Regions from separate parts of the Homo sapiens genome. Here region 2 is linked to region 1. The links come from fine-mapping of genetic effects on gene expression. A gene starts in region 1. The other region holds a variant in brackets. All regions are shown on one strand. Distances are between the middles of the regions. Region 1 holds the start of POMC (proopiomelanocortin). Region 2 overlaps EFR3B (EFR3 homolog B).

The links. PIP is the estimated chance that this variant, and not a neighbour inherited with it, causes the effect.
Region 2: its variant is fine-mapped to the expression of POMC in whole blood (TOPMed, PIP above 0.99).

What each region holds. Positions count from the first base shown.
Region 1 is chr2:25,165,197-25,180,786 of GRCh38, forward strand. It overlaps POMC (proopiomelanocortin), which reads right to left and starts at 3,384. Exons shown (of 3, transcript NM_000939.4): 1 at 3,302-3,384. RefSeq lists a promoter at 3,258-4,070, cis regulatory regions at 3,409-3,421, 3,487-3,660, 3,661-3,686 and enhancers at 3,481-3,500, 11,735-14,490, 13,362-13,863, 13,864-14,363.
Region 2 is chr2:25,121,861-25,129,860 of GRCh38, forward strand. It overlaps EFR3B (EFR3 homolog B), which reads left to right. Exons shown (of 23, transcript NM_014971.2): 6 at 6,323-6,472. Among named protein-coding and RNA genes, the nearest start is that of POMC, 43 kb to the right of the region's middle. RefSeq lists an enhancer at 2,034-2,203. The variant A/G (reference allele first, on the strand shown) is at 3,871.

The DNA.
Region 1 (15,590 bases):
TAAGCTGTAGTTCTAACATGCAAGATCTCAGGAGTGAAAGTAACTTGGGAAAAACGGAGGACCCTGAAACTCCTGCTCAAGATGGTCTTTTCCCTTTTTATTCCACCAGGATCCTATCATTCCTCTGAAACTCTATTTCCTATGAATATTAGGTTGACAGAAAAGCAAATAAAACCACTGGCCAATTTAGGCAGCATTTCGAGCAGCCTGATTTGATGTCCTGCACACAAATTACTCTGGTGATCACTATTACCCAGACTCCAGTAACTTTGGAGAGCTTCGTTTTTAAAGCAGATCTCAGTTCTTTGAAATCTGGCTCATCTTCTGGACACGTCACGTGTCAGATGTCTTGTTCTCTAGAGCTCTCAAATGTGGTCTGAAATGGCAGGATTTGAAGAGGATGCAGATGTGGAGGGGAAAGAGACCAGAAGGGAATTACCTCCTGGTGGAACAGCCACTGCAGATACTTTTGGAGAATCCAGCAAGTGCCTGTGGGCAGAAGCTGAGGTCAAGACACCAGGGGACAGTAAGGAGGGGGCATCCATGGTGCCCCTAGCCCCCTGTACCCACCCCTCTCTCCAGCACTACCCTCGCACTGCCAAATTTCCCTTAACCAGGTGGGCCCCCTGAAGCCACCTCGAGGCCGGAGATCAGCTCACCGCCAACCCTACAATCATTTTGGATTTCAGAAGATCTTCTCAGCCAGCTGCTAGAAAGAAATGTAATTAGATGAGAAAAGTAATTCACATTAAAGCGTGGATGACTAAGTGTCTTGTCACTCCTAATGAACGCTGGCATTTTAAAATAAGTTTGCCTAAAATAAATCTCTCATTTGGGGAGGCGTGGGCCAAATCTTTTTTATATAGGGGAGGCTTTGGAAGTGAAAGTCCTCTGAAGCGCTGATTTCTACTTCAGGAGGCCACTTCCTTCTCTCTACCCCACCCTCGCCCTATTCCCCAGGCGCTGGGCCTGCACGGTGCTAGCTTCTGAAGGGTTGCCGGGCAAGGCTGAGCATTTTCAGAGCAGCCATTAGATGGCACTGGCAGCCAGTGACTGGCCCAGGTGCGCTTCGGCTAAAGGGGCAACTGAACGAGCTTTGGTCAACCTTGGTGTCCTCTCCTGGCTCCAAGGGACAGGCTGTTCCCATTGTACCCTGCCAGTGATCTATTCAAGTACACAGCCAGAACTTGGTGGACCAGGCAATTAGATTAAAGCTCCAAGTTGACCATAGCACATTTAGCTCTGAAAAATGCCCAGATGTTACAGTCACAGAAAAATGGTAGTTACGTATGTCACCAAATGCAAATGTAAAGTAACATATTAGTAAAGGAAAAAACAAAATCTTACAGGTCTGATAGTTCCCTCAATTATATTTCAATTCTTGTCAAAGATAACTACTCTGGAGTGATTTCCATTTGCTAGAAGCAATGACTTCAGGCCTTCCTGGAAAGCCCCAGAGAGCATTTCCCCTCCTTATGCCCTATGTGCTGTGTTGTACAATGTGGTAACATATTCACTCCCACCCTCTCAGAGCTTATATTCTGTTGCTAAACTGGTTAGATGGCTGCTATTGCTAAAACTTCAGATTCTTCCCTGAAAGATGGTCTTGTGTTTGTATTGTATATTTTGCTTATGTGTATGTGTATTTGCTTATGTGTATTTTCAGTTCTCTACAATGAACAAATAGTACCTTTTGTGTCATTTTTAAAGCAACAAATTATTGGGGAAATATCAAATGTTGTGCTTTTTTAAGTAGGGAAAGTATTATAATCCAAAAATGGAAAGCTCTGGAAAAATAGAAACTTGAAATTTGCTCATCCTGAGATTAACTTTATAGTAGAACTACACTTATTAGAACTTCATAGGTGTGAGGGGCTCTCTATGAGCTCAACAAATCATTTTGCTTGTTACTGTAAAACTGCACGCTGGCCATGACCTTTTGTAAAGATTAGAGGAGCACAGGGGCCGAGTTTTGTCCTTACACCATGACATACATGCATCGAGTCCTATAACAAAAGCATCAAAGGAACAGTAAGTCATTAAAGTGGCCATAATCTGTGCAGAGTTTATAAACTGACACACACACAAAAAAAATCCACACACACTTTTATTTTCCTTGGCTCCTTCCAGCCATTCTGTAAGAACCCTCCCTGCCCCATTTAAACATGAAGAATTTGGGGAATCCAAATGCCAAGTGGACTGTCTCTCCTTCGCTGGAAACGCCCCTTACCTGAGCCTTGATCATTCCAAATGGCTGCCCGTGCCCTCAACCCAGGATCTGCGCCATAAACCGTCCACCCCGGTTCTGTTGAGGGCATCCGAAACTAGACAGTGCGTTTCAGGATCTAGGACAGCTCCCGCCCCGGCCACCTGTTTTTAACCCCAGCTAGGTCTTGGAGAGAAGAGACCCAACTATTCTGCATTGTAATTGACCCAGTTATCATGTAATTATCATAGCGCGGCCACCTCGGGTGCGCTAAGGTGGGCAAGGAAACAAGGATTCAGGGGTCTGAATCCGAAAAAATCCGGAAGGCAGGGCGTTCATTATGACTTTTATCCTTTTCTCTGCTGCCCCGTTTCCAACATTAATTTGCGATAGCGTGTATGGAATTTGACTTTCAAGATGTGACACCTATCCTGGAAACTGGGAGCAAGAGATACTAAAAGACCGGGCTGGCCGGGGGCGGTGGCTCGCGCCTGTAATGCCAGAACTTTGGGGGGCCAAGGCGGGCGGATCACCTGTTGTCGGGAGTTTGAGACCAGCCTGACCAACATGGAGAAACTCCGTCTCTACTAAAAATACAAAAATTAGCCGGGCGTGGTGGCGCATGCCTGTAATCCCAGCTACTCGGGAGGCTGAAGCAGGAGAATCGCTTGAACCCGGGAGGCGAAGGTTGCGGTGAGCAGAGATCACCCCTTTGCTCTCCAGCATGGGCAACAAGAGCGAAACTCCGTCTCAAAAAAAAAAAAAAAGACCGGGTTGTCCCAAGACCTCCTAGCAAGCTCTCGGAGCCTCCGGACCGCCGCGAGCCCCTGGGGGAGAGGAGGCCGCCGGCTCCCTGGAGACAGCGCCTGCAGCTTCGCGGCCGTCCGCCCAGGGGCCGGACGTGGGCCCTCCAGCTCAGCTACTGGCGGCTTCTCATGCCGCAGTCGGCGCAGAAAGTTTGTCGAGAACTCGGGACCGCGGAGAGCCAGAGGCGCCCAGGTCCGCCTTCGGAGCCGGAGCCGGCCGACTGCATCGCGAGGACGGGGACAGGGGATCCCGGGGAAAGAGCACGGGTCCCCCACGCTGCGCCCTTACCTGTCTCGGGAGGCTGCTCTCTGAGGGCGGGGACGCTCGGCGGCCTCTCTCGGTCGCGGCTCTTCTTCCCCTCCTTCGCCGCCGCTTGGTCCCGCGCTCCTCTGTCCTTATATACTTGCCGAGCTCTCCTGGTGGGCGCGGGACTTTGACCTTCCCGGCAGCACAAGGAGCAGCTCCCCGGGCCAGGGGAAGGGGGGCCGCGGGGCGTGGGAGGGGGGCTTCCAGACGGGGGACGAGCGCGGGGAGACGCGCTGGAAAGGGGCTGGAATTAGCACTGTCCTGCCGAAGGCGCACCTGGCCGCTCGCCCTCAGGAAGAACTTAATTATGGATGGCGTTGGGTCTCCGCTTAGAACGGGCGGGAGGCTTAGCACCCCCGTGTGGGGCAGGCCGGGCAGCCTCTGAGGTCGTTGAGGCGAGGGTGAAGTTACCTGCGTGCGTGCTGGGGCTGGCATCTGCCTGGTTCGCATTTGGCGGTAAATATCACCGTCTGCACACGGGGAGGCCTCCGATTTCCCCATTGTTTGGAAACTGTGATGTGGAAGTCGTGGGGAATCATATTCTCTCTGTTCCACTTTGGGGAGGGGAGGAGGGAGCAGAAGTCAGGAGCCGTCTTGTGGGTGTGAAGGTGAGTTGCACTGCTCCCCTGGGGCCTGCTCTCCAAGGGCCTGGTTTAGGGGAGGCTCCCTTCCGTGTCCCAAGCCTCAAGGAAAAAGTCCTGTTAACCTAAACCATTAAATGGGGAGAGGGTGATGCTGTGAAGAGCAGCTGAAGTGCTTTCCCTGTGGCCTCTGATCCCTCCCTTTGCCATGAGCTGGCAGGGTGGTCTGGGGACTCAGACAATTTTCAACATCCCCCTTGGCCCTGGAGTTCTGGCTTGGCTTTAGTTCCAAATATCAGACCAGAGAGAAGAGTACAGCACTCAAACCAAGCTAAGAGACTCTACCTTAACCTGGAGTAAATAAACAAAACCAAATTGTGCGATGTGGTGGGTGTGGGAGGGAGTATTGGGACTAAACTGGACTTCAAATCAAGACACTTGCTTAATCTGCCAAATGCCAGAACTTTCCTGATTCCCCATGAGATGCTCTTTTGGACTCCAGGACTCTCTTGTGGATTCAGCTTTTCTGGTGACATTGGCTTTACATTCAGCAATCCTTTCCCTTTGGACCACAAGAGAGATCCAAGCTCCGTCACAGTAGACAAGGTGCTTCATCACCCGGCTTTGGCCCCTTTCCAGGGCCATTTCCCAGTTCTCCACCTTGCATCCTGGCACTTCAGCATCCACAACATTCACACTGCTAGAACATGGCTTTCTTGGGTCTCCATTGTCCAAGCTGTTCCCCCAACTAGAACATCCTTCCTCTCTCCAGCCATCCAGGAGCTTGACTCACATCAAGATGTAGCCCATCCATCAGCCCCTGTTCTCTGAAGCCCTCTTTGGCCACTTTTCCTACCAGGGGCATGAGGCATGACCTCCTCTGCCTTCCACAGAAGTCCATCCCCATCTTGTCAGTGCAAGTGGCTTGCACTAATTCACTTCTGTCCCCATTTTTTTAATCTTCCATCCACCCCACGACCACCATCAGGTTTGTAAACTCTTTCAAGCAGATGGTGGTTTTGCCTTATTTTACTTTGTGTTATTTTTGTAACTTCAGGAGGCTGCTGGTGGCAGCAGATAAAACAAACCAGGAAAAATCCAAATGGACCCAACTTCTTTAACTGGGTTCCTTCTTTCTTTTCTTCTCTCTCTCTCTCATTCTGTTTGTTTGTTTTTGAATTAGGGTCTCACTCTGTTGCCCAGGCTGGAATGCAGCAGTGTGAACACTGCTCACTGCAGCCTCCACCTCCTGGGCTCAAGTGATCCTCATGCTTCAGCCTCCTGAGTACCTGGAACCACAGATGCATGCCACCATGCCCAGCTAATTTTGGGTTTTGGTTTTTTGTTTTGTTTTTGTTTTTGTTTTTGGTAGAGACAGGGTTTCACTATGTTGCCTAGGCTGGTCTCAAGCTCCTGGGCTCAAGTAATCCACATCAGTATCCTGAAGTGCTGGGATTACAGGTGTTAGCCACCACACCCAGCCCAGTTTCTTAATTTAATGCAGCAGAACCTGCTTTGGCCTCCATGAACTGAAAGGCCATTGAACTGCATTTAGAATCACTGGGTAGGCGGGGCACAGTGGCTCACGCCTGTAATCCCAGCACTCTGGGAGGCTGAGTTGGGCAGATCACGAGGTCAAGAGATGGAGACATTCCTGGCCAAGATGGCGAAACCCCGTCTCTACTAAAAATACAAAAATTAGCCGGGCGTGGTGGCGCACACCTGTAGTCCCAGCTACTCGGGTGGCTGAGGCAGGAGAATCGCTTGAACCTGGGAGGCGGAGGTTGCGGTGAGCCGAGATCGCGCCACTGCACTCCAGCCTGGCGACACAGCAAGACTCCATCTAAAAAAAAAAAAAAATCACTGGGCAGGTTGGGGGACCAGGATCTAAAAATGGGCAGGGACACAGTGTGGCTGGAACCATGGCCAAAATCACATCCAGTGGAGAAAAAAAAAACAGACCACAAGGGGCCACAAGGGGCATGTCAAGACCACAGGCGTCTGACATAGACGTCACTTCTGTCCCCAGGATGGGACGCTGCCATTCTCACTTCAGCTAATGCCACTAGAAAGGAGTCACCACTGCCCTTGCATCCTTGTACCACTAGCTCCTCTTTGAAAGCCTAGAACAGGTGCCTTTGATTGTCTGACATGACATAATTTTTCACCTTTATTCTAGTAATGTGGTGAATTATTGCATTGTTGATTTTTTGGTGTTAAACCTACCATGGCTTCTTAGATTAAACCCAATTTGATTATGATGTATTATCCTTATACAGAAAGCACTGGACTCAATTTGCTAATATTTTATTTAAGACATTTGCATTGATGTTCATGAGATGGGCCTGTAATTTTCCTTTCTTGTGGAATTCTTGTCTAATTTGAGTATCAAAAAATTATGCTGTTCTCATAAAACAAGTTGGAAATCCATCTTCCCTCCCCCTTTTTATAATTAAGTAGAATAATTTGCGTATAATGGTGTTATCTCGTCCTTAAATGTTTGGGATGATTCACCAGTGATGCCATCTAAATCTTTAAGATTGTTTGTTCATTGAAGTTTTTAATTACAGAATCAATCCTTTCAGCTGGAGCTGGAAAAAAGAAGGAAAAATGTTTTAAACCATTACAAATTCAATTACTTAAGTGGCACTATTTCAATTGTCTACTTCTTCATGTGTCAGTTTGAGTCAGATATGTATTTCTAGGAATTTGTCTATTTCATCTAAATTCTTTAATTTATTGGCTTAAAATTGTTTATTATATATTTTAAGCATCTGGGATCTGTGGTTTTGGCCCTTTTCATCTCTGATATTGGTTATTTGTGTTCTCTTTTTTCTTGATTCATTTTCTTTTTTCTTTTTGAGACAGACTTTCACTCTTATTGCCCAGGCTGGAGTGCAATGGCATGATCTCGGCTTACTGCAACCTCCGCCTCCCGGGTTCAAGCAATTCTCCTGCCTCAGCCTCCCAAGTAGCTGGGATTACAGGGATGTGCCACCACATCTGGCTTATTTTTTGTATTTTTAGTAGAGATGAGGTTTCTCCATATTGGCCAGGCTGGTCTCAAACTCCTGACCTCAGGTGATCTGCCGGCCTCAGCCTCCCAAAGTGCTGGGATTACAGGCGTGAGCCACTGTGCCTGGCCTCTTGATTAGTTTTCTTAGGGTGTTATCCATTTTATTAGTCTTTTTAATAATCCATTTTGGTTCTGTTAATTTTCTGTACTATATGTATACTTTTTTATATTTCTGAAATTTTTACTCTTATTATATCGTGCCTTCTACATCTTTGGGTTTAATTAGCTATTCTTTTCCTATACTCATGAGTTGGACATTAAATAAATACTTTTACTTAGATAATTGATATTGAACCATTTTTTTCCTTTTTTTTTTTTTTTTTTTTAATATTGCCTTGACTCATCTTCAACTCTTGGGCTCCAGTGATCCTCCCACTTCAGTCTCTCTAGTAGCTGGGACTATAGATGCATGCCACTGTGCCCAGCTCCTTTATTCTTTTTTTACATATGTATTTATGGCTATATTTTCTTTCTAAGTACAGCTTTATATGCATCCCACAACTTTTGATATGTCATATTTCAATTACCATTTGTTCAAAATATCTTTTTATTTTCATTGAGATGTCTTCTTTGACCTATAGGTTATTCAAATATATTCTGCTTAACCTCTAACCCTTCCAATTCATATTACCAACTTAGAAAAAAAAGAAAAACTTCTAAACCTTGGGGATTTTCCAGTCATGTTTTTAAACTAATTTTTTGCTTAATTCCCTTGTAGTCAGAGAATATGCTCTGTTTGATTTCAGACCTTCGAAATTTTTTGAGGCTTGCTTAACAGATAAACATAGGGCTCATTTTGATTAGGGCTTCCTGTGCACTCCAAAAGAAGTGTCTCACTGCACTGTATTCTGTGACTGTATATTCTCAAATATTCTATATCCTTTCTCTACCTATATCCTTGCTATTTGTCGTCTTATTCTATTAGTTACTGAGAAAAGTATGCTTTTTAAATCTCCTCACTATTTTTGTGCATTTCTCCATTTGATCCTGGCATAAAAACAGCACAACTCAGCCGGGCACAGTGGCTCACGCCTGTAATCCCAGCACTTTGGGAGGCCGAGGCAGGCGGATCACCTGAGGTCAGGAGTTCCAGACCACTGTGGCCAACATGGTGAAATCCCGTCTCTACTAAAAGTACAAAGATTAGCCAGGCATGGTGGCGCATGTCTGTAGTCCTAGCTACTCAGGAAGCTGAGGCAGGAGAATTGCTTGAATCCGGAAGTCAGAGGTTACAGTGAGCCAAGATCATGCCACTGCACTCCAGCCTGGGCAACAAGAGCGAGACTCTGTTTCAAAACAAAACAAAACAAAACAAAACTCTATGAACTGAATGGTGATTGTGGGTGGAGGGTAATGTTGGATCAAGGATAAAGATGGCAGAAAGGGCCAGGCGTGGTGGCTCATGCCTGTAATCCCAGCACTTTGGGAGGCCAAGGCGGGCAGATCGCAAGGTCAGGAGTTCGAGACCAGCCTGATCAACATGGTGAAACCCCATCTCTACTAAAAATACAAAAATTAGCCAGACATGGTGGCTTGCACCTGTAATCCCAGCAATTTGGGAGGCTGAGGCAGGAGAATCGCTTAAGCCTGGGAGGCGGAGGTTGCAGTGAGGCCATTGCACTCCAGCTTGGGCAACAGAGCAAGCCTCTGTCAAAAAAAAAAAAAAAAGGAAAGAAAGAAAGAAATAGAGAAAAGAGAAAAAAGGAAATTCTGAAATCTGGCCTGGCACGTGTGACCACGTGACCAGTTCCTTCAGAAGGCAGTTCCACTGCCCGGAATGAATCTCCTTAGCTCTTGGTTCCATCCTCTGGGCTCTTGGTTCCATCCTCTGGGCTCTTGGTCTATTCTCTGTGTTAGCTTTCCTTTTCCATAATAGCCAAGATTTGCACCTGAATAATTTTCTTGCTTGCTTCCTGCCTATGGTATTTCAGGGGCTCAAAAGCTTCTTTTTGTTTGTATACTCCAGCTCGACCACTATCTGTCATATGGATTAAAGGAGGCAATTCATGTAAAGATCTTAGAGCAGGGCCTGGTCCCTAGTTAGTCCTGTACAACTGCTAGCCCTTAACTTTAATATTATGGGAGTGTTGGTGAGAAGGGAGGAGGGAAGAGGAAGGAAGGAAGGAAGGAAGGAAGGAAGGAAGGAAGGAAGGAAGGGAGAGAGGGAGAGAGGGATAGAGGGAGGAAGGAAGTAGAAGGAGGGAGGGAAGGAAAGAAGGCAAGGTTGGAAGGAGGGAGAAAGAGAGGGAGGAAGAAGCAAGGAAGGGAGGGAAGGAAGACATAAAAGAAGGGAGGAGGGAAGGAAAGAAGGAAGGAAGACAAGAAGGAAGGAGGGAGGGAAGGAAGAAAGGAGGGAAGGAATAAATGAAAGAAGGAAGGAGGGAAGAAAGGAGGGAAGGAGGTAAGACAGGAGCAGACACAGGGTCTTTTGGACAGGGTAGCTGATGGGTTTGTTGGGAGACCCTGCTTGTGAGGACTCCTGGGGCCGGGGCGATGCACCTGCACCTGGCTGCGGGCGTGCCAGGTGGCTGTAGACGTAGGGCTGGGGCTGCTCTCATCATCTCAGCTTTTCACCTTTGAGGTTTTAATTGGAAAAGAGATGTCACCAGGGTGTGAGTGCGTTACAAGGGCAGGTGCAGGGGAGGCTGATGACTGAGAGGACAGAAACAAGGACAGGGTGGCAGAGCCCAACATGGGGCAGGGGATAAGGAGGTACAAGGAGGGTGGCCTCGTTGTCAGCCTCCAGGCATTGGGACTGGCAATGGGGGACATTACCCTGGGAGAAGAGAAGACTTAGGGATGAAGCTGCCTCATGTCTGTGGGGGACTTTGCTGGAATAAGCACCAATTCATGCCTTAAGGGTCTGAACGAGGAGCCCCAGCTCCACCTTGGCACGCCCTTCTTCATTCTCTCTCCATAGTCTCCATGGACAAGCTGGGGGCAGCTGCCATCCCTGTCTCATGGAATAACAATTGTCCCTTCTCGGAACTCCTTAGGCTCAGCCAGGGCCTCTTCATTCCTGCTGTTGTTTGGTCTAGAGGGGCCCTTGGGCTGCTCAGCTGGTGCCGGTTGCCTCTAAGGGCACAGCTCCCATAATCAGTGCCTGGTAGAGAGTTGGTGCTTGAAAAATATTTGTACAGCAAGGGTAGGAGGGGATGAATGAGGAAGGGAGACCCTCTCCCTCTTAACCCTCAGTTTGCAGAAACTCATGATTCTCCAAAACCCTCTTTGTCAGAGGCGTTTGAACCAGAGCAACTCCATCTTGAATAGGGACTGGGTAAAATGAGGCTGAGACCTACTGGGCTGCATTCCCAGATGGTTAGGCATTCTAAGTCATTGGATGAGATAGGAGGTCGGCACAAGATACAGGTTATAAAGACCTTGCTGATAAAACAGTTTGCAGTAAAGAAGCCGGCCAAAACCCACCAAAACAAAGATGGCCACTGAGAGAGTGACCTCTGGTCCTCACTGCTACACTCCCACCAGCGCCATGACAGTTTACAGATGCCATGGCAATGTCAGGAAGTCACCCTATATGGTCTAAAAGGGGAAACATAAATAATCCACCCCTTGTTTAGCATACCATCAAGAAATAACCATAAAAATAGTTAACCAGGCCAGGCGTGGTGGCTCAAGCCTGTAATCCCAGCACTTTGGGAGGTCGTGGCAGGTGGATCACGAGGTCAGGAGTTCAAGACCAGCCTGTCCAAGATGGTGAAACTCTGTCTCTACTAAAAATACAAAAATTAGCCGGGCGTGGTGGCAGACGCCTGTAATCCCAGCTACTTGGGAGGCTGAGGTAGAGAATTGCTTGAGCCTGGGAGACGGAGGTTGCAGTGAGCTGAGATCACGCCACTGCACTCCAGCCTGGGCAACAGAGTAAGACTCTGTCTCAGAAAAAAAAAAAAAAAGTTAACCAGCAGCCCTCCAGGTCGCTCTGCCTATGGAGTAGCCATTCTTTCATTCCTTTACTTTCCTAATAAATAAACTTGCTTTCACTTTAATCTATGGACTTGCCCAGAATTCTTTTTTGCGTGAAATCCAAGGACCCTCTTTTGGGGTCCGGATTGGGATTCCTTTCCAGTAACATCTCCGTACTCCCTCTGTAGGACACATGAACCTGAAACAGGGAAGTGCCTCCTCTTCATTGTGTCTGAATGAGAAATAGCCCAGTATCTTCCCCTTTATGTGGGCATTCAAGAATCGTGAGCACTTTCAAGAAATCCTAACTACCGCTAAAATTGCACTGGGGCTCAGAAAATTATACCCCAAAATATGGAACTAAAGAAGCAGCTTCAGTTCCTTTGAAGAACCTTCAAAATCTCGCCCTGACCTTCCCCTCACTCCCTGTCTCTCTGATTTTTTCCAAAACACCAGAAGGTACTGTCTTTGGCATTTCCATATCTGACTAAGGAAACTTCTTTCTAAAAGAAATACAATTGCCTGAAGCCTCCCTTCATAGGAATCTCATCAAATAACCAGGAAAGAAAGATTAACCACCTGAGAAGAGACGGATCATCACCGCCTCCAGACAGACTTTTCTTGCATTTTTCTGAGGGCAACTCCAAGAGATAGCCTAGGGGGGTTACCTGCATAATAAGACAGGCTGCGTTCACAATGACTTTCTGCTTCTCACCTTCACACCACCTACCCAAAGAACAGAGAAGAACTTTGTCCCAGGCCATTGTTCCTCGGGCGCATTCACTTTCCCAGAAAATCATTTACTCCTATGCCCCTCATTTTCCCTTCCCCTATCAAGAAATATCTGCAGGCATCTGGACCTCATTGAGTTACTGGGTAATCATTCTCCCACCATTCTGCTATGCTATACACATGAAATTAATTTGTATGTCTTGTTCCCCTATTAATCTGTCTATTAGCAGTTCATTTTCAACAAAACTTCAGAGGGCAGAGTGAAGGAAGGAAATTTTCTCTTGGCACCCACAATTGTCAATAGAAACCCTAATTAAGCATCCCTCTGAGGGGAGCCTGATGTGGTTTGCAGGGCAGACAGGGAGCTGCCTCCAGAAAAGGGCCTGAAGCCTGAAGCACTGCAGAGGAGAGGGTTACTGGTGCCCCAGATGGCCCTACAATTCAGGCGGATCCCACTGCCCCGCTTCACCCCTGCAACACGCCCTCCCCAGTCTCAGCCTTTTCATTGAGCTTCTCTCATGCAGCACTGCAGCTGGGCTACTTCACCAGCCTTCGGTTTGACCTCAAGGGCAAAGAGGAATCAATTTGTGCAGAGAACTGGAATGAAAGAGATTTCAATTGACCTTTGAATGGGGTTTTAATTTGCTTTATTCCAGCCAAAGGGACCTCGTGAAGAGACCCTTGAGACTGCTTTTATCCACTAATGCGCGCATTAGTGCAGCAGCCTGGGCCAAGGTCTGCATGGTCTGGGTGCCGCAGAGCACAGTGGGGAGGGCCAGAGTCCATGCCCCTCCCTAGAGCAGGTTGTCAGCACCCTCAGGGTCCAAAGCAGAGTCAAGAGTGGAGGAAGGGCCTAGGTAATATGGTGGAACCCCATTTCTACAAATATATATATATATATACACGTATATACACACACATACAAAAATTAGCCGGGCATGGTGGCACACGCCTGTAGTCCCAGCTCCTTAGGAGGCTGAGGTGGGAGGATCACTTGAACCTGGGAGGTGGAGGCTGCAGTGAGCCATGATCATGCCACTGCACTTCAGCCTGGGCAACAGAGCCAAACCCTGCCTCAGAAAAAAAAAAAAATAGAGTGGAGGAAGAAGCAGTGGGAGGGGGTGAGGTGACCTGGGTTCTAGCCCCAGCTCTGTGGCCAGCAGACACAGGGACCTGGGTCAGTCACTCCCCCCACCCCCACCCCACCTCCAGGCCTCAGCCCCCTCATTTGAACAATGGGGGCGGGGAGGATGTGGTCCGTTTCAGGCCTGTCATTCTATGATTCTAGGCTCAGATCTAGAGTCAAGCTCTGTGATTAAAAAACAAACAAACAATAGTCTTACAGAACGTGGCCCCTAATGGGCACAGCTGAGTCCTCTGGGCTGAGGAGGTAAGCTCTGTCCTTCTGTCTCTTGGGCCTTTCTCGTGTCCTGTTTCTCTCTGAGAATCTGCTCCAGTCTGCACACATGGGCAGGCCAGTTCTCTGCTCTGTTCACTCTGAATCCCAGAGGAAACTAATGGGGCCACTAATTACCAGCACTCCTGCTGCAGGCAGCCACCCATGGGGTCCAAGTGGCCTGTGGAAAGCCAGCCCTGATCAAAGAGCCCTCTGCAGCCGCTCCTCACACAGAGCCAGTTCCATGGGACACCCCAGTAGAGAGCCTGTAAGTTTGTGTGCACAGTCCTGCATCAGCAATGGCAGGTTCTCTCTTACCCTGAGCTTATTACACCTGGGTATATTGCCATGTGGAGCCACATGTATTCTTTTAGAACCACTCCCTTATCCCAAGCCCTTTTTTCACAATGAAGGCTTGCGCCTCTGCAATCCAAGTAGACTTCCTGGAAGTAGTGTCTTTGCTGAAGATGTTGTGGACATAACAGACACACCAGGCTCTGCTAGATGACGTCCCTGCTGCCGCTCTTTCCAGACAGAGCTCAGGTGCCAGCGGCCACCATTCTGACTCAGCGGTGGTCATAATGGTCCTTTTGTGGGGGACAGGCCTTTGTTAGGGGCTCGAGCATGACTGCTACTTTTCCAGAAGAATGCGGAGTTCTCCAGCCAGCAGTTGAGGTAGGGAGAGTGACGTGGTGGCCAGGAAGGACGCCACTAATGCACATCCATTAGTGAGTGCATCACAGGGCGGCATTCAGAAGCTTCCGAGCGGTCCTCCTTCCTCCAGACCCAACAATGGCTGCGTGGAGGGGGCTTGAAGTGGCCTTTTTACAGGCACTCAGCTCAGTCTCCCTCTCCAGCCCCCGCCCCCGTTAGGTACCCATCTTCCATTTCCATGCCTGCTGCTCAAAGGAATGGAGCAGCCAGGACAGCGAATCCAGGCAGCCCACCTGCGGCCCGGAGAGCCCCCACTGTGCCCTCAGTCCCATTGCCCCAGGAGAGGGACACCAGGCTGGGCAGAGCTGGTGCACAGTGACCTGCTATGCAGCAGCTCAAAGAGCCCATGACTCTGTGTGTGTCTGTGCATGTGCATGCACGTGTATGTGTGTGTGCATGTGTGTGTGTGTGTGATGGGAAGGGTGCAACGACTCCTGAAATGGGTTTGAAAGGTAGTTTGGTTTGTTTTTAACACGCTGTCCAAAGCCTTTATGTCCAGTTGAAAGTGATTCCTTTCCCAGCATCCCCCTAGGCAGCTGTTCTTGGTGCCATTGAGGGGCTGGGGCTGGAGCCTTTGGCAGACCCCTTAGGGGAAATGCTTCCAGACCAGGTCTAATCCGCCTGAGAAGGCCAGTCTCTGACTTCAACATCTCATTTCAAAAAACATGTATTCGCTGGGCATGGTGGCTCACACCTATAATCCCAAAACTTTGGGATGCCAAGGTGGGTGGATCGCTTGAGGTCAGGAGTTTGAGACCAGCCTGTCCAACATGGCAAAACCTCATCTCTACTAAAAATACAAAAAATTAGCAGAGTGTGGTGGTGTGTGCCTGTAGTCCCAGCTGCTCAGGAGGCTGAGGCAGGAGAATCTCTTGAACCCGGGAGGCGGAAGTTGCAGTGAGCCAAGATTGTGCCTCTGCACTCCAGCCTGGGTGACACAGTGAGTGAGACTCTGTCTCAAAAAACAAAAACATGTATAAATTATGTTCTTTTAATTTATCCTTTATATTATCGTTCAACCTTTAGGTTGAAGTTATTTTTCTATGTATTATGAACATGAGAAGGTTATATTATCAATGAATTTCATTTCAAGATAATAAATAAGGTCTCACTACTTATTTATTTACTCTTGAAAGGGTATTTTGCTGCTGATGGGAATGTAAAATAATGCCACTTTGTCAAAGAGTTTGGCAGTTCCTCAAAATGTTAAACATAGAGTTACCATATGACCCAGGAATTCCCTTCCTAGGTATATACTCAAACATTTTTCCACACATTTTGATAAAATTTGTATGCTCACAGATGCATTATTCATAAGAGCCAAAAAGTGGTAGCAACCCAAATGTCTACCTACTGATGAATGGATAAATAAAAAGTGATATATCCATAAAATGGAATATTATTTGAGAACAACAAAAAAAAAAATGAAATACTGGCGGGGTGTGGTGGCTCACATCTGTAATCCCAGCACCTTGGGAGGCTGAGGTGGGTGGATCACCTGAGGTCGGGAGTTTGAGACCAGCCGGACCAACATGGAGAAACCCCATCTCTACTAAAAATACAAAATTAGCCGGGCGTGTTGGTGCATGCCTGTAATCCCAGCTACTTGGGAGGCTGAGGCAGGAGACTCGCTTGAACCCAGGAGGCAGAGGTTGCAGTGAGCCAAGATCATGCCATCGCACTCCAGCCTGGGCAACAAGAATAAAACTCCGTCTCAAAAAAAAAAACAAAAAAACAAACAAACAAAAAAAAAGAAAAAGAAATGAAATACTGATATATACTACAACATGGATGCATATTTAAAACATGATGCTAATTGGAAAAAGTCAGACACTAAAGTTCACATATTGT
Region 2 (8,000 bases), 47 kb before region 1:
AACTTCCAACCTGCCATTGCGTGTCTGCTTTTGTTAGTATCTGTGTCTGCTCTGATGTTGCCGGGCAGGTGGGCCAGCACCCAGCTCCCTACATGTGGTTTCTGTTTTTTTTTTTTTTCTTTTTGAGACCGAGTTTCACTCTGTTGCCCAGGCTAGAGTGCAGTGGCGCGATCTTGGCTAACTGCAACCTCCGCCTCCCAGGTTCAAGTGATTCTCATGCCTCAGGCTCCCAAGTAGCTGGGATTACAGATGTGCACCACCACGCCCGGCTAATATTTGTATTTTTAGTAGAGATGGGGTTTTACCATGTTGGCCAGGCTCATCTCAAACTCCTGACCTCAGGTGATCCACCCACATCGGCCTCCCAGAGTGCTAGGATTACAGGCGGGAGCCACTACACCCGGCCCCCACATGTGGTTTCTAAAGGAAAAACTGCTTGGGCCAGACAAAGGGGCTCAATGTAAGATAACAGTCCTTTGAGCCCAATTTGAGAGCCAGTGACAGAACACACATGTGTACACACACACAGCCCTCCATACACTCTTTTGTTCAGAATTATATGCATTTATACTCCAGAAACACACCCACTCACCATTAACCATCAAAATCTACACCTACCAATAAAGAGCCAAAGTTCACACTTTGGCTGATCCCAGCTGCATTCTCCACTCCATCTCCTTGGCCCTCCTGCTTGCTCGTTCCCCTCCAGCACACCACAGACACTGCCTCAGGGCCTTTGCACAGTCTGTGCTTGTGCTGGGAATGCTTCCTCCAGGGATCTGCATGGCTCACTGCATCGCCTCTGTCAAACCTTTGCTCAAATGTCCCCTTGTCAGTGAAGCTGCCCTGCACACCCCCACATGCCCACTCCTCCCTCACTCTGCCGGGGTTTCTTTCCCCTTTTAACATGTTTCATACATTACTCTCTGTGTTTCTTGTTCACCACCTGTCTCTTCCCACTGGGATGTAAGCTCTGTGAGGGCAGGGTCCGTCGTTTTACTCACGGATGCATCCCAAGCACTAACACTGCCTGGAGAGCAGTGGCACTTGACAAATTCTTGTTGAGTGAATAACAGAATGAATGAACACCCTCAGACAAGCATCTTGCCTTACGGGATACGCTTTTACATACACATACTCCAATTTATAAAAACACTTAGCTCACAGAAGCATACTTGGACATAGAAGCAAAATCTCTCAAATAAAATCACAGAGAAATTGACCAGGTGCAGTGGCTCATGTCTGTAATCTCAGTACTTTGGGAGGCTGAGGCAGGAGGATCACTTGAACCCAGGAGTTTGAGGCCAGCCTGGGCAACATAATGAGACCCCACCTCCACAAAAAATAAAATTAGCTGGGCATGACTGCACGTGCCTGTATTCTCAGCTACTTAGGAGGCAGAGGTGGGAGGATCTCTTGAGCCTGGGAGGTCGAGGCTGCAGTGAGCCATGATCGCACCCCTGCACTCCAGCCTGGGTGACGGAGTGAGACCCTGTCTCAAAAAAAAAAAAAACAATTAATCACAAAGAAATTAAAATGAATATATGCTTCCAAGGCAGTAGACCGACTCCTGGGCAGGGCCCGGTGCAACTGTGTGGCATTGTCTGGGTTCCCCCAGTCCCCGAGACTCTCATAAGCCAGGTGTGGACTCTGCAGCTGCCCTGCCTGAGTGCCTCTGGTGAGGCCAGAGTGGGGTATGGGAGGAAGGAGCCCCTCATCCTCTCCCAGAATTAGCTTCCTGAGTCACCACCATTGCAAAATGGCTATGAAGAGCCAGAGGGGCTGGAGCTGTGGGGGCATGTCCAGAAGCAGGTGTTAGGGGAGGTATAGGACCATGGCCACATATGTCTGTAACACATGCTGCCCACGCAGGCCCTGCCAAGCTGTCCCAGGGTGGTGGGGGAGTGGATGGGCCACTCATGCCACTGCACACACGTGCACACACGCACACATGCACACAGACACATGTGCACATACACATGATCTGTAGTGTGTGATGTGGTCAGCACTGTGTTCCAGCAGGATCAGGAGTTTCCTGAACATCAGGAGGAAGGCTGCTGAGGTTGGCTCCCAGCCACCAGCAGTGCCATTACACCCACAGGCTGGCGCTGGTCACCCATGACAGGAAGGCCTGTGGGTGAGAGAGGGTGGAGGAGGGATCTTCTGGTGTCAATTTTCTTCCTTCCTCCTCTTCTTGCCTTTCTCTTCCGTCCCCTCCCTGCACCCCTTTTTCCCTGAGATCTCTCCTGTTGTTCATTCTCAGCCTTTTTAGACTCAGCTGACCCGGTGGCAGCTGTGCTGGGCTGTCCACACACATAGCATCATTTTGGTCTAGGAACCCAGAGGCTGCCTCTGAATGCCATTGACTGCCCTTTCCAGTAACACCCTTGGGTCCAGCAGTGGGCCTGTGCATGCAAGTGTGTGTGTGTGTGTGTGTGTGTGTGTGTGTGTGTGTGTGTGTGTGTGTGTGTGATTCCTCAGGGTCAGTGGATCAGTATTATCTGATCTTTCCTTGGATTCAGAGACTTCATGGGGCCCTTGGTCATGGGTAGATCTCCACTGTGCCCATTAAGAGGAGCAGTAGGGCCGGGCGCAGTGGCTCACGCCTGTAATCCCAGCACTTTGGGAGGCCGAGCGGGGCGGATCACAAGGTCAGGAGATTGAGATGGAGACCATCCTGGCTAACACGGTGAAACCCCTATTTAGTCTCTACTAAAAATACAAAAAAAATTAGCCAGGCGTGGTGGCGGGCACCTGTAATCCCAGCTACTCGGGAGGCTGAGGCAGGAGAATTGTGTAAACCCGGAGGCAGAGCTTGCAGTGAGCCGAGATAGTGCCACTGCACTCCAGCCTGGGCAACACAGCGAGACTCTGTCTCAAAAAAAAAAAAAAAAAAAAAAAAAGGAGCAGTAAGGGCCAGGTGTGGTGGCTAAAGCCTATATGGCCAGCACTTTGGGAGGCTGAGGCAGGCAGATTACTTAAGGTCAGGAGTTCAAGACCAGCCTGGTCAACATGGTGAAACCCCGTCTCTATTGAAAACACAAAAAATTAGCCAGGCATGGTAGCGCACAACTGTAGTCCCAGCTACTCAGGTGGCTGAGGTACAAGAATCACTTGAACCTGGGAGGTGGAAGTTGCAGTGAGCTAAGATTGTGCCACTGCACTCCAGCCTGGGCAACGGAGTGAGACTCCGTGTCGAAAAATAAATAAATAAATGAATAGGAAGAGTAAGAAGCTTCCTCCCCCTCCAGGCCTGATCTTTCTGAACTTCTTTTGAAAGGCACGGTCAGCTCTGGGTGTCACAGAATGAATCGTGCATTTGTGGAAGGGATTCTGGGGAGACTGAAGGTGAAGGAGTGCAAGGTAGTTAGGAAAAGAAGAAAGATTAATTCACATGTACACATAAGGGAGCCCTGGGTAGAAGTTTTTCTGCCAACCAGGCGTTGTTTCCTGCCAGCCAGGCCCACTTGGACGGGACAAACGAGTCCAGCATGCTGGGGATGTGTGTCACTTGTCCCTTGGTTAGGGAGTGCCTTTTTAAACTGGAACTAAGAAGAGTCAGCAGGACAGTATTCCTGATCGTTCATTCCCAAGTCCGGACAGCTGCCAGCTCAGGGTCTTGAATGTGGTCAGGGTCAGGACAGCGTGGCCAGGTGCTTCCAGGGAATCCTTGCCCATCGCCAGTGGCCCTAAAAGTTTCTGGGCCAGGGTATCCTGTTTCTCCTAGGCTGCTGCCACCTCCAGCCACAGTTCCTCGGTAAGACCCAGGGTAGCACCCTGGCAACCCCAGTTAAAACCAAAGTTAAGGCCAGGCACGGTGGCTCACGCCTGTAATCCCAGCACTTTGGGAGGCCAAGGCGGGAGGATCAC[A/G]AGGTCAGCAGATCGAGACCATCCTGGCTAACACGGTGAAACCCTGTCTCTACTAAAAATACAAAAAAATAGCCAGGCGTGGTGGCGGGCGCCTGTAGTCCCAGCTACTGGGGAGGCTGAGGCAGGAGAATGGCGTGAACCCGGGAGGCGGAGGTTGCTGTGAGCCGAGATCGTGCCTGGGTGACAGAGCGAGACTCCGTCTCAAAAAAAAACGAAGTTAAAAATGCAACTGGCAACTCAACCTTGAGAAAAACTGCTCATCTCCAATAATCACAAAAGGATTTGAATTGAAATAGCTACAAAATGTGAGGATTTTTTGGAGTCATAAAATTAGAACAGATGTTTAAAATGAGATCCTCAATACTGCCACAGGCACTGTGAGAGTGGCATTCTCCTGCGGCTTGCGCATGGGCAGGGGGTGGGGGCAGTTATTTTGGCAAATTGGGAGCCTTTCATTTCCTTTTTTGAGACAGAGTTTCACTCTTTCATCCGGGCTGGAGTGCAGTGCCATGATCTCACATGATCTCAGCTCACTGCAACCTTTGCCTCCCAGGCTCAATCAGTACTTCCACCCCAGCCTCCTGAGTATCTGTGACTACAGGTGCGCACCACCATACCTGGCTAATTTCTTTCTTTTTTTTTTTTTTGAGACAGGGTCTTACTCTTTCGCCTAGGCAGGAGTGCAGTGGCATGATCTCCGCTTACTGTAACCTCCACCTCCTGGGTTCAAGCAATTCTTTCACCTCAACCTCCCGAGTAGCTGGGATTACAGGTGCCTGCTACCATGCCTGGCTAATTTTTGTATTGTTAGTAGAGACGGGGTTTCACCATGTTGACCAGGCTGTTCTCAAACTCCTGACCTCAGGTGATCCACCCACCTCGGCCTCCCAAAGTGCTGGGATTACAGGCGTGAGTCACCGCGCCCGGCCTAATGTTTTAATTTTTTGTAGAGATGAGATTTTGCCATGTTGCCCAGGCTGGTCTCGAACTCCTGAGCTCAAGCTATATACTGGCCTTGCCTCCCAAAGTGCTGGGGTTACAGGTGTGAGCCACTGTGTCTGGCTGCCTTTTATTTCTTACCTTTTGACTCATTGATTCCACTCATGGCAATGACTTGAAACATAGTAAAATATTTCATACAATGATGCCCATCATAGCATTATTATAAAAGTGAAACGTTTGGCCAGGCACGGTGGCTCACACCTGTAATCCCAGCATTTTGGGAGGCTGAGGCGGGTAGATCATGAGGTCAGGAGTTCAAGACCAGCCTGACCAACACGGTGAAACCCTGTCTCTACTAAAAATACAAAAATTAGCCGGGCATAGTGGCACATGCCTGTAATCCCAGCTACTCAGGAGGCCAAGGCAGAAGAATTGCTTGAACCCGGGAGGCAGAGGTTGCAGTAAGCCAAGATCGCACCATTGCACTCCAGCCTGGGCGACAGAGCCAGACTCCACCTCAAAAAAAAAAAAAAAAAAAAAAAAAGCAAAACATTTGGAAACAACTTAAATGACTAATAGTCACTAGTTTAGAAAGGTCTTATGATAGTCTATCAGGCAACCATTCAACATGTTTATGAAGAGTTAATGACATAGGAAAATGCATAGAATGTATGTGAAAAAAGCCAATACAAATAAAATATGCAATAGGTTCTTAATTCTGTTATATATTATGCACAGAAGAAAGGAATTACATCAAAATGCCAATAACAGTTATGTTTGATAACAAAGATAACAGTGGTAGTGGTGGTGGTAGTGGTAAATCTTCTCTTCTCTATACTTTTCTATGATTAGTATGTATTATTTTATAACCAGAAAAAAGGTTTTATAAAAAAGAAAGAAAGAAACTTCAGTCTGAAATAAATGGCTAGTAAAGAGGGCTCCCTCCCACAGAGCTGTGCTGACCCTGGGTTCACATAGCAGGGACTGGGGGTGTACAAAAGGGGCTCCTGCTGTGCTGTTACTCAGTTTCCCCTCTGGTTAACCCTAGCTCCAAGCCGACACCCCTTTGTGCCCAGAGAGCCTGCAGCTCTGTGCCTCTCCCTCTGGATCCGCCTCCCCCTGCCCCCGCAAGTTGCTCACAGCCTCGGATTCTGCTTCATCAGTTCTTGGCAGCGTTTTGAGCTCTTACATCTTGGGCCCAAGCTGGAACAACCCCAGCTAAGTACTAAAGATGGGGAGCTGGAGCATCCAGCACCCTAGGGCTGGAGCCCAGATGGTACCAGGGCAAGGGCAGCCTGGGAGTCTCCAAGATGATTAAAAAGACATGGCTTCCTGGGCTCATGTCTGCCAGCACCAGGAGGTCTCATGAGAGTAGCAGCTGGTCTCCATTCTGCCTTCTGATGGACAAATGTATCCCTGACTCCTAAGCTGTGCTCTTCTCTTAGCCACCGAAGCTGGACTTCTCAGGGCTAGAGGACTTCCGAGTCCCACTTCACCCTTTTCCTTACAGAATTCGAATGTCAGGCATCAAAGGCCTGCAAGGGGTGGTGAGGAAGACGGTGAATGATGAACTGCAGGCCAATATCTGGGACCCACAGCACATGGATAAGATCGTTCCATCACTGCTTTTCAATCTACAGCATGTAGAGGAGGCAGAGAGGTAAGCAGGCCGGGATGGGGCAGGACAGTAGATATAATCAACCCTCCAAGGGCTGCTTGGGAACCACATGGTTTGGGTTGGTCAGTAAAACTCAGCTACAAGGCCAGGGACATGGCTTTGTGGCTTGTTCTGCAGTGAGTCCAAAGCTGGCTCCCTAGAAGCCATGGGTCTGACTTTGTGCCAGCCCACAGTGTCCCTTAACATGTGCGTTACCGAAGGAGGACAGTGTTGGTGCTGGGCTCCCTGGTGGGTAAATCTGTTGGTAATAACACACAGAACCAAGAGTCTGGTTACCTTTGTCTCCCTGGAAGCAGGGCCAAGGAGGCTTTAAGATGCCTTTTGTGGGCCGGGCGCGGTGGCTCACGCCTGTAATCCCAGCACTTTGGGAGGCTGAGGCGGGCAGATCACGAGGTCAGGAGATCGAGACCATCCTGGCTAACACGATGAAACCGCGTCTCTACTAAAAAAAAATGCAAAAAAATTAGCTGAGCGTGGTGGCGGGCGCCTGTAGTCCCAGCTACTCGGGAGGCTGAGGCAGGAGAACGGGAGCCCGGGAGGCAGAACTTGCAGTGAGCCGAGATCGCGCCGCTGCACTTACAGCCTGGGCGACGGAGCGAGACTCCGTCTCAAAAAAAAAAAAAAAAAAAAAAAAAAAAAAAAAAAAAAAAAGATGCCTTTCATGGCTCCGATCACTGCGGACTTTCCATCTGGACCTTCCTTCCTCTGTTGCTTCCTGATGCTATTTCAGGCCCTGAAAACGTGCATGCTTGACCAGCCCGCAGCCACTCAGTAAGAGCTTGCAGATACTGGGTTTTAATCCTGGATCCCCTAAGCATGGGATTCATTCCTGTCCCTGCACCCTCATTTTTCCCCTCGGTGAAATGGAATGGGGAGAAAGGCCCACGTTGCTGTCCCACCTGGGCTATCTGTGCACTAGGCTAGTTAGGTCGGTTGATCCCAGGCTACTAGAGCTAGACTCGGGTCGACGGGGGCGGGGGCGGGGGCGGGGGCGGGGGCGGGGCGTGGGGTGGGGCGTGGGGTGGGGTGGGGTTCGTATGCCATCTGGTGGCTGTTTCTGGAATAGCATCTCACTGACAAGCTGCTGTGGTCTCTGGGCTGGGAGTCCTCCGGCTCCTGTTCTGTCCAGATGTGGGCCCACTCCCTGTGACTTGAGTATCATTGACTCTTGCCTGAGCCAACCACTGTGCCTTTCCTTTTCCCTCCCTCTCTTTCCTCTCCTTTCTTCCACTTCTGTTTTGTTTTTTGCCTCCCTTTCCTATCTTCATCTCCCATCTCCTTTTCCTTCTGAAGTCTTAGGTGCATCAAGACACACATGTTCTACACCTCACCTGGCCCATGGGGCTCAGAGCATCCTTCCCACAGTGGTACATCTGGAAATCTTTAAGGATTTCCAGAAAAAGAACTTTATCTTTTCTTCTCCGGTCTTCCCCCACTTCCCCCAGTGGGGGCTTCTTTACCCCCATTTAATTTCTGACAGCTGTGACGCCTCCCCTATTGCCTAGTGCAA